Homo sapiens: one gene and its partner. The protein of the gene in region 2 interacts with the protein of the main gene of each other region in a pairwise test. Each region holds a gene or a part of one and is shown on either strand. Other genes may lie near its edges.

The links. The genes of interacting proteins can lie anywhere in the genome.
Region 1: the proteins of LPAR3 (region 2) and KCNC1 interact in binary tests that used the Homo sapiens proteins (3 or more experiments, as listed by UniProt).

Annotation. Positions count from the first base shown.
Region 1 is NC_000011.10:17,740,245-17,745,487, reverse strand, and holds part of KCNC1 (voltage-gated potassium channel KCNC1), read right to left. Parts: intron 1-5,243.
Region 2 is NC_000001.11:84,882,208-84,887,450, forward strand, and holds part of LPAR3 (lysophosphatidic acid receptor 3), read right to left. Parts: intron 1-5,243. UniProt on the Homo sapiens protein: Receptor for lysophosphatidic acid (LPA), a mediator of diverse cellular activities. May play a role in the development of ovarian cancer. Seems to be coupled to the G(i)/G(o) and G(q) families of heteromeric G proteins.

The DNA of each region.
Region 1 (5,243 bases), on a different chromosome or scaffold from region 2:
AAGAACTCAGGCAAGAGAGGGCAGGGGCTTCCACGGGGGGGTAGCTGTGGAGGGGTGCGATGCACTCAGATTCCGAGTGTACTTGAAACATGAAGACAACAGGGTTGGTTGATGTCTGAGAGAGAGAGGAGTCCAGGATGACTCCCAAGGTCTACCAGTGGGAGCCACCAGATGGATGCGGTTGCCATGGCTGTGATGGGGCCTCACCCCAGGCCCAGTCCCCCTGCCATCGAAGCCTCAGCCTCAGGAAGGAGCGGCTTGCTTGTGACACTCTGCCAACCCACACACGCCCATCCAGCCCTCTGTGTCCTGAGGCTGGCCCTCGACTGGAGCCGCTGCCTGCATCAGCACTTCTCAGACTCCACCGTGCATGAATCATCTGGGGAGTGAAAATGCAGATTCTGAATCGGTTTCAGGGCTGGGGTGAGGCCTGAAAGGCTTCACGTCTAACAAATGTCCTCATGGTGTTGCTGTTGGTCAGAGGGCCACACCTTGAATGGAAGGAGCCCACACCTCTCAGGCCCCAATGCAGCGATGTACCCTCACTCAGCAGTGGCCTCAGCTGTGCTGAGGGGTGAAGGGAACATTCTCCCCCTCCCTGATCTAAGAATCGAGTTTCCCAGGAGTATGAACTTTAAGCATCCCAGGTAATTCTGAGGGTCAGGCATGGGTGGGAGTCCTCCAGCAGCCACCCCTCCATCCCCCATAGCAGCCATCGCAAACACCCCTACCCAGCCCTGGCCCTTCCAGCACAGCACCCATCCCCTGCGCCCTTCCCCACAGCAGCCCTACACCATAGAAGTTGGCCCCACTGCCCCTGCTCCAGACCCCACAGCCTGGCACACAGGAGCTCCAAGTGGGCCTTTCTGCAGCTCCCTAAGGGCAGGAAGCGAAGAGAAGGGCCTGGAGAAGCGGGCAATGGGTGCTGTCCATAGGCCTGAGCAAGCACCCCCAAAAGAGGTGATCCCCCCAGGTCTGTGCCTGCCAGAGGGCTGGGGGAGCCCGTCAGGCAGGGGTGCGATCACTATGCCTTGAATGAATGAGTGAGGACAGGATGAGGCAGGCTGAATGAATGTAGGAGGAAGCTTTTTAGACCCCTTCCTGCTGGGCTCCTGCCTGCTCTGGGCCAGGACCTTTGCCAGGATTGCTCACACGTGCCCTGGGGAGGAGCTGGGCTGGGAGAGAGAAGGAGAAATAGGGGAGGACTGGCTTGGTTTCCCCAGCTCCTCTGGGAAGCTGAAGCCTAGAATTCTTGGACTCCCAGAATGTCAGAGTTGGGAAGAGCCTTAGCCGTCAGTTAGCACGACCTCTGTATTTTACAGGTGGAAAAACTGCAGGATGAAGGGGCCACAGGACTTGCTCAAGGTAGCCCAGCTGGTTTCACAGCCTGGCTAGATTCCTCTCTAATCCAGGTGTCTGATGCCTACAACCTGGGTCTTGCCTGTGGCCTCATCTCTCCACACACCGGGGCTGGTCTCTAATCCTGAGGGCCCGCCTGTCCCCAGCCCCCAGCCTCCAGAACTGACCTACTCATCACCAGCTCACATCTCACAAACTGGATGACTCAGTGCCCAGTGCATACCCCTCACTCCCAAAAACATGACGTCAGCGAGGGCAGGAGCAGCCAGGCTAAGTGTGAGGAACCTTAAGGGATGGATTTTCACGTTCAGCAAAAAGCAGGGAGGACACTGAAGTGAGGGGAATAGATGACCAAAACCCCAGAGGTTAAAGGGCTGCCAATGAGGACCAGGGAGGAGGCTGGCGGAAGGGAGCCGCAGGAGCTGTGGCTGGGTTCCAGGGCAGAAGGCCTTGGAGTGCCGAGCTGAGGGGCGGCCAGCGTTCCCACCATGTGCCGCCCTGCACAAGCAGCTTCTGATCCTCCCAATCCTCCTGGCATTTCACTTTAGGCCATATGGAGTCCCAGGGGCTGCATGGATGGGAGTGGGGGGACAATTGAGGCACTGTCACAAAACCTTCCTTGGGACTGACAGAGCGCCCTCTTAGCCCATGGCCTGGCCAGGCAGGGCCCTCACCTGCCATTACCCAGGGGCCAGAACTTGCTGACAGGTTCTGGACAGGTTGTTGGGAAAGAGTGGATGGTGGGGAGGGAGAGACCCAGACGGAAATTCAAACCTGGGGCACAGCAAGCCACAGGCCTCACCATCCCTGGAACATGGACAGGAGGCAGTGCTGTGTAATAGTTACAGATAGAGCTCCAGCGTCAGACAGACTGAGGTCTGACTGCTGGCTCCACCGCGCATGAGCTAAGTGACCTTGGGTAAGTTACTTAACTTCATTGAGCCTCTGCAGCCTTGTCTGTGTCATTGGCGTGATAGTATAGTGCAGCCTTGAGAGCCTTGTGAGAATTATTAATAAATGAGGATATATAAATCAAGTCCTTAAGACAGTGTCTGACACTGCGTGATTCAAGAAAGGAAGGGGGTTCTGGAAAATCCTGCTTGGGGAATCCTAAGGATTTGGGTCAAGTCTGGGTTGGCTGACGTGAGAAGGTCTCAATCAGCTGTGCCGTGTCCTTGGAATGCAGGTATCTGTGTATTCCACTTCCCCCAGGAAGGAAATTAATGGGAGTAGATAAGAGAAGAACAGCACGCCCAGGTGGGGTTTGGTGTTCTTGTAAAACTGAGAGCCAAAAGAAATTCAGATGGTCAGGCCCTGGGACCAGAGGCCTAGGCTGTGAGTTTGAGTCTCACTGATTCCCTGTGTTGTCTTGAGCAAGTGTCTTTCCCTCTCTGAGCCTGTTTATTTTCACTGAATGAAAATATTGACTAGAGGTAGCCTGGGAGCACCCATTCCCTGCAATAGTCCCATGCATATGTGAAGTGGTCCCTACCACCTAAATGGTTCCCCTGAATAAGGACTGAAGAGCAAAGCACCCCTGCAGCCTGTCAGGCCCTCCTTTTCCTCTAACCTTGCACCTAGCAGAGGGGAGCTCACGCTGGGGTGGTAGCCAGGCTGGCCCCAGAGCTGATGGGAGGCAGTGGCTCAAGGCCCTGACCTTTTGGTCTAGAGTGAATCCCCTGGTCATGAGACCGCTCAGAATAGCCAGAGGCATTATATTCAGCTGTCGTGGAGGCCTTGAGATCCTCAGCCCAGGCAGTGGACCCTGGAATGAGCCCCCACTGAACCCCCTCCCCCACCTCTGAGACAACCACCACCTCCCTCCTTGATAGACTTCAGCCAATCCCCTCCAAAGCTTCTGGCAGAGGCCAGGCCTCCTGCTCAGAGTCAAGGAGCACAGACTCCAAATGCTCTGAGGCGATGTGACACAAAGCACCTGTGAGCCAGGAGTCAGGAGATACGAGTTTCCCAGCCAGCCCTCAGCTAACCCGCTCACGAGGGGCCTCAGGTAGAGCACTCCTCTCTGGGCCTCAACTTCCTCATCTGTCATGATAACAGCTCCTATTCTATAGAGCATGCCAGAGGCTTACAGTCTAGAGGAGAGATGAGCCCAAATCAAACAAGGCTGCTAATGAACATTTTATTAGAAATCAGAGAGCTTCTCTCCCAGGAAGGGCCCTGGTTCTGACTCCAACCCAGCCTAGGGGCCCGGGAAGGCATCACTGAGGAGCTGCTGTTTGAGGTGGGGTGTCGGGGATAAAGAGGGGTGAGCCAGAGGAAAGAGCGCTCCAGAAGGCAGGGTATGTGCAAAGGCCCTGAGGCAGGGGAACCTGGCAGGTGCAAGAAGCTGAAACGAGGCTGGGTGGTTGGGGTTTGGTAAGCGATGGAGACAGTCAGGTCAGAGGAAACTGGAGGGACAGGCAGGGCCTGAGAGGCCACAGTATGGGCCACGGGCTGGCGAAGCACTGAAGGGTTCTAAGCAGGCTCGGGCGATCTGACAGGCCCGTGAGTTGAAAAGACCTCTGTGGTTGCCAGGTGGAGGATAAACTGGAGCAGCCAGGGGCTGGAGGTGGGAGAGCAGCTGGGGGGCTGCCGGGGAGGTGAGCCTGAGGGGAACCATGGTGGCTTGAGCCAGGATGGTGAACATGGAGGTGGAGGGAGACGAGAGAGTCTACAGGAGGGGAAATGATAATACAACCAACAGTAGTAATAATAGTAGCCAACATTTATTGAGCATTTACTGTATGCCAGGCCCTGTGGTTCGGGGCTGTCCAAGCATTACCTCAGTTATCTTCACACCAACCTCGTGAGGACGGTTCTAACTTTATTCCCATTTAGCGGTGAAGGGGCTGCAGGGCTCTGACCAGGAGGCGCTTGGTTTATGATTTTCATTACTGGGAGGGGGGTGGGGGGAGCTGGAGGAACCATTCAAAGACCTGAGGACCCCATACAAGGATCATGGGAAGCAGGGGGGCACACTGTGGTGGAAGGCCCTTGGGGTGGCTGGGAGGTGAACATACCCAGCCCCTTCTCCACTGTTCATGGGTCTCCTTCATATGGTACCATGACTCCAAGTGGGGCCCTGGCCTGGGGGAGTGGGCTCCGAGGCAAGGGGGTGCACTGCCTAGAATCCCCTGATAATAGCTCTGTCCCCCAGCCCTCCGCATGCCAAGCCACGACTCCAAGAGCCCTGTGTCGGCTGGGACCCAAGGGAGGAACAGAAGCCTCTGGCTGGGCGCTTTATTTCCCGCCACCAGGTAAATTTCCTTCCCTGGGAGCTGAGGGGAGGCCAGTTTTTATCGAGTTCCAAAGAGGCAGTGACAGGGCAGAGAGACAGACACAGGACAAGGGTCAGAGGAGAGGCAGGCAGCTGGGTGGATGGAGGTGGGGCTTCCCCAGCTTGGGGGCCATTGGCACTACTTTGGCATTTGGAAGGTCAAGTGACTCAGGAACAGATGTTAACACACACACACAAACACACACACACAGGACACTCTGGCCTGCAGCACAAGGACCACCATTGGCCCTGATGGGACGCAACAACGTCCCTGATGATGACATGCAAATCAGAGACTAAAGCCAAGAGCCTCAGACCTGAGCTGGCCCCCAAGGAAGACAGGAGGGCAGGTTTCAAGCCAGGCAGCCCCAACACTCCCCTGCCTGCTCTCACACCTCTATGACCCCCCTGCCCTCTCCACCTGGTTAACTCCTCCCTGCCCCTCAAAGGTTGCCCCAGCATCACCTCCTCTGGGGCAGTTCTTATTCTCATGGCCCCAGGAAATCCCTTCATAGCCTCTCCAAACAGTACCACCATCATCATTGTCTTGTGTGTGTCAGGGGCACCACCCCCCAACCCAGAACACACGTGGAGCTCATCCTGTCCC
Region 2 (5,243 bases):
AAAGGAAATTATGAAAACAATTAAATTCACAATAGTATTAAAAAGAATAAAACCCTGACAAATAAACTTAATCAGAAAGGCAAAAGACTTATACACTGAAAACTATAAAACACTGATAAGGAAATTTTTAAAGACACAAATAGAGGTAAATACATTTCATGTTCATGAATCAGAAGACTTAATACTGTGAAAATGTCCATACTACCCAAAGCAATCTATAGATTCAATGCAATCCCTACAAAAATCTGAATGGCATTTTTTACAGAAATATTAAAAAATCCTAAAATTCATCTGGAACTACAAAGGACCCTGAATAGCTAAAACAATCATAAGAAAGAAGAACAAAGCTGGAGGCCTCACATTTCCTGATTTTAAAACATACTACAAAGCTATGTATGGTAGTATGGTACTGGCATAAAGTCCAACATATAGACCAGTGGAAAAGACTAGAGAGCCCAAAAATAAACCCACACATACATAATCAACGGATCTTTGACAAGGGTGCCAAGAATTCACAATGGAGAAAAGATAGTCTCTTCAACAAATGGTGCTATACATATGTAACAAACCTGCACGTTGTGCACATGTACCCTAGAACTTAAAGTATAATAATAAAAAAAAATGGTGCTAGAAAAAAATAGATACTCACATGCAAAAGGGCATGGCCCTGGAGATAGCCAGACTGAGTTTAAAGCCTTGCTTACCAACAAGTTAGTTATCTTCTCTATCTTAATTTCCTCATCTACAAAACGGGGATAATAAAGGTAACTTCCTCCTAAGGCTGTTAGGAGATTTAAAGGTGCTTAGACTAGCCCCTAACAAACAGTTCTAATTTAATTATTGTTATTATCAGTGGGATCTGAGAAATGGAGCCTCGATTTCCTTTTTTGTAAAAGGGAGATAAGATCTAACTTGTCAGGTTAGTGGGACAAAGTGAATGACGTAGCAAATGTAAAGCCCCAGTCCACTTCAAGGTCTAGAGGAGTCAGAGAAAGTCCACTGAGCTCCACGGTGAGCTTGTTCCCAAAAGGCTGGGGAAAAGGGACCCCAACAGAGAATATTGGGAAGAGGAGACCAAAGGAAGAATCCTTTCCCTCACACTGGGTGGGTCACCACAATAACACCCTAAAGCCAAAGCCTTCTCTCTTCTACCAATCTAGTCAGAGAGTCACTAGCTGGTGTTTTTCATTACCTTTTAGTCCCAGAGTCCCAGATGAATGTGTACAATCAGGAAAGAGGGGTTTAGCCAGCTGGGTTGAAAACCTAATGTTTAACATTCTTACTATGTTACCATACTTCCTCTAAACCACTCCTTCAGGATCTTGGAGTAATCCACCAAAACACATTCACTGATATACTAGTGAACAAATTTCAAAGTTTACATCTCTTTCCCCATTTGATCCCACAGTGAGATGGGCAGTTCAGCATTCTCCATTTTACAGAGAAGAAATGTAGAAATTGGGGACTGATTCACCCTGACCAGCCCTCATCCTTCTGGCCCAGGGATTTTTTTGTTTTTTTTTTTTTTAAACAATACTGACCACTGGAGCCTCTTTTTGGAAGCAGTCTCTGCCACCTGACCCCCAGAGAAATGTAAGACGTAGATTTGTTCTCCATAATGACATTAATGCCTTTTGCAAACATTTACTGAATCTAGAAGAAATATAATTGCAGAAAGTAAAAAGTTTCCTCTTCAAAGTTTCCCTTCTTGTTAAATAATAAATCATAAATGTTAGAAATAATAGTTTCTTTTAAAATTTTTCTTCAAGCCTCCTTGCTTTGTGCTAATAACTCTTTGTTAAGCATGTAGCTGTTGGACATGCTCACAGGCATGTTCCAGCTCACAGCCTATGCCCCTTTCTTATTTGGAAATGTTATTACTTCTTTAAATTTTTCAAAAGCAACTTCCTCTTTTCCTTTGTTCTCCCTTGCCTTTACCTATCTAAAAAAGTTTTAGGCTCTTAGCAAATCGGGTATCAGTTTAGACTGTGAGGTTCGGCTCCAGCCAGTGGATGCAGGACACAGCAGTGAGGACAACCCAAATGTGTAAGGGATAAATATGTCTGCTTTTCCTTTGTTTGGTGTACTCTCGTGGCAAGACTGCTGGTGAGTATACCCTTTCCGCAGAAAGTAAAAATTGCCTTGCTGAGAGAATTAAATTTATGTTCAAGCGCTATTTCTTTGTGGCACCGGGGAACAAGCATTTTGCATTTCTAACATAATGATTGTGGTAAATGTCAATAAAAATCTTGAAGCACATCTCTCCTTAGAGTTTTTGGTAAGAGTTTATGGAGGAAAATCTATATAATCAAATGAAAATATCACAGTAAAACTCTAAATGCATCATAGAAATTAGCAACCATTAGTCAGTTTGCCTGTTTCAGAGAAAGCTCAGAAGAAACTCAGTTTACCTCTACAATGTTAAATGATGTTAACACCTTCTCCTAAAGCATTTTACTTTCCCCATCAACAAAACAGAGTATATCAGCTGAAATAGGCCACAGACCTCATTGTCTGTCTGTACGAAACTGGGGCAAAAATGAACTCAGAAAGACAAGTAATAACCTGGTAGCAATCCATGGAAAGTTAACCTTGCTGACATTCCTCTTCACTTCCCTCTGTTGGATGTTCCTGGAATTTGCATTTGTGGAAAGTTGCATACTTGCAGTGAACAAGTTCCACTGGTCCTGTTGTAGTGGATTCCACCTAACCTTTTATTCCTCTCATCCCTGTCCAGCTAACGTTCTCTCACTGTTCAGCATATGTACGTCAAAGACAGAAGTGCATGAAGACATGTGTAAAGATGCAAAATTCCCCCAGGAAACTCATTATCTAGAGCAGCCAGGGCCAATCCTCTCCTCCTCCCAGGGATTCCTAGCAATATCTGGAGACATCTGCATCAGTCATGACTTGGGGGAGGGGGGTACTATTGGCATCTACCGGGCAGAGGCCAGGAATGCTGCTGCACACGCTACAATGCACAGGCCAGCTCTCCACAACAGAGAAGTATCCGGTCCAAAATGTCAGTGGTGCTAAGGTTGAGAAATCCTGACCTAGAGGGTGAGATGAGACATATAATACAGGGTTAAGTGTGGCAGAGCTGTAATAGAGCTAAAACTGGAGTGCTATCAGATTGATAACATTTAAACAAGCGGCTATTACTTGCCAACAAGTGTTGGCAAGAATGTGGGGAAAATAGTACCCTCATAACATGTTGGTGAGAATGTAAACTGATAGAACTTTGGGGGAAGGCAATTTGGCAATATCTAATGAGACTTTAAAATATATACACTATTCCTCTTTGCTTTCCTTCCATTCCTATTTTCTTTCTTCCTTTCCCTTCTCTTTTCTTCCTTCCCCAGAACACAGCAATCAGCATGTAGCTGGGAATGCAACGTGAGGCTGGGGAGTTTGGGGAGGTACATAGAGACATGAGCTATGGCTGGGAAGAGCTGTGAGCTAGAGGGACTGGAGACTGATGATTAAGCTACATAGAGACACAGGCTAGCAGGCCTGGCAGCCGAGGACAAGAGGCAGTGGCAAAGGTGGTGGACACAGAGGAGGCAGGATGACCTTCACATTTGTAAGACTGGTTACTGTATGCAAATAAGCAAAAATATTGAAGATAATGAGAGTCAGGTTTTCTAACTGCCAGAGAAGATATGTACAAACATATAAAGGGGGAAGAACAGAAAGCTCTTTGGGTGTTAGATTGAAATTGTAGGTATAAGTATGAATCATGATTTTATAATACACAGCCTAATATAGAAAAATTTATAAATGTGTGTACACATATACACATATATTTCCTAGCTCTGTCCTCTGAGAGATCTAGAAGCAATAATACCCCAGTAACAATGGGCACATCAACCTCCTATGTATTGGTGTCTAAATACAATTCTCATATTGCATATTAGATCTCAAGACTTATTCATCCTACATAACTGCAACTTCGTACCTTTTAATCTACATCTTCTGTTTTTCCCTGTTTCCACTAATGTACAACACAAGGACTACAGTTACTAATACTGTATTGAGGCTGAGCATGGTAGCTCATACCTGTAATCCCAGCACCTGGGATGCCAAGGCAGGAGGATGATTCAAGGCTGGAGTTGGAGGCCAGCCTGGGCAACACAGCAAGACCCCTCCTCTAAAAAATATTTTTTAAATTAGCCGGGAATGGTGGTGAGCACCTGGAGTCCTAGCTACTTGGGAGGCTGAGATAGGAGGACTGCTCAAACCTAGGAGTTAGAGGCTGCAGTGAACTATGATCACGCCACTGCACTCCAGCCTGTAGTACAGAGCAAGACCCTGTCTCTAAAAAAATTAAAATTAATAAATATTGTATTCTGCTAATTTGCCAAGAGAGTAGATTTTAGGTACTCTTATCACAAACACAAGAAAGGTAACTATGATGGGCATGTCAATTTGCTTGACTGTAGTAATTACTTCATTACATCTATGTTTATCAAGATAAATACATGAAAATATCATGTTGTATGCCTTAAATATATAAAATATAAATAAGACAAAAGTACCATTCTCTACTAAAAGGGAGGCCTAACTAGGTCAAGGAAAGTAGAAGATGAGTCCAGATGATCTGGTGGAGCCAGAAAATAAAGAAATGCTCAATGAATAATAGGGATGTGTTAAAAGGACACAGGAGGCAGCTCCAAGGGGTCCCCATTGGCCAAATTGAGCACAATTTGAGCATTAAAATAAAAAACAATCGTGAGACTTCAACTTATTGAATACATAAGGAATCCATGAACAGTTCTTAGTAAAAACATAACAGAAAAATAAAGTTCTTCCTTATAGTAGTATGCCAACTAACAAATGTAGAAAGAGTGACGGTGATAAAGAATCATCACTTGAGGCTGGGTGCAGGGGCTCATGCCTGTAATCCCAGCACTTTGGGAGGCCAAGGCAGGTGGATCACTTGAGCTCAGGATTTCGAGACCAGCTTGGGCACCATGGTGAAACCAACTCCATCTCTACAAAAAATACAAAAAAAAAAAAATAAGCCAGGTGTGGTAGTGTGCACTTGTAGTTCCAGCAACTTGGGGGGCTGAGGCAGGAGGATCACTTGAGCCCAGGAGGTTGGGGCTGCAGTGAGCCAAGATCATGCCACTGCACTCCAGCATGGCAACAGAGTGAGACCTTGTCTTAAAAAAAAAAAAAAAGAATCACCATTTGGCAACATTCATAGAGGTGGCTGATTCAGGCAGACGTCATCAATAAAT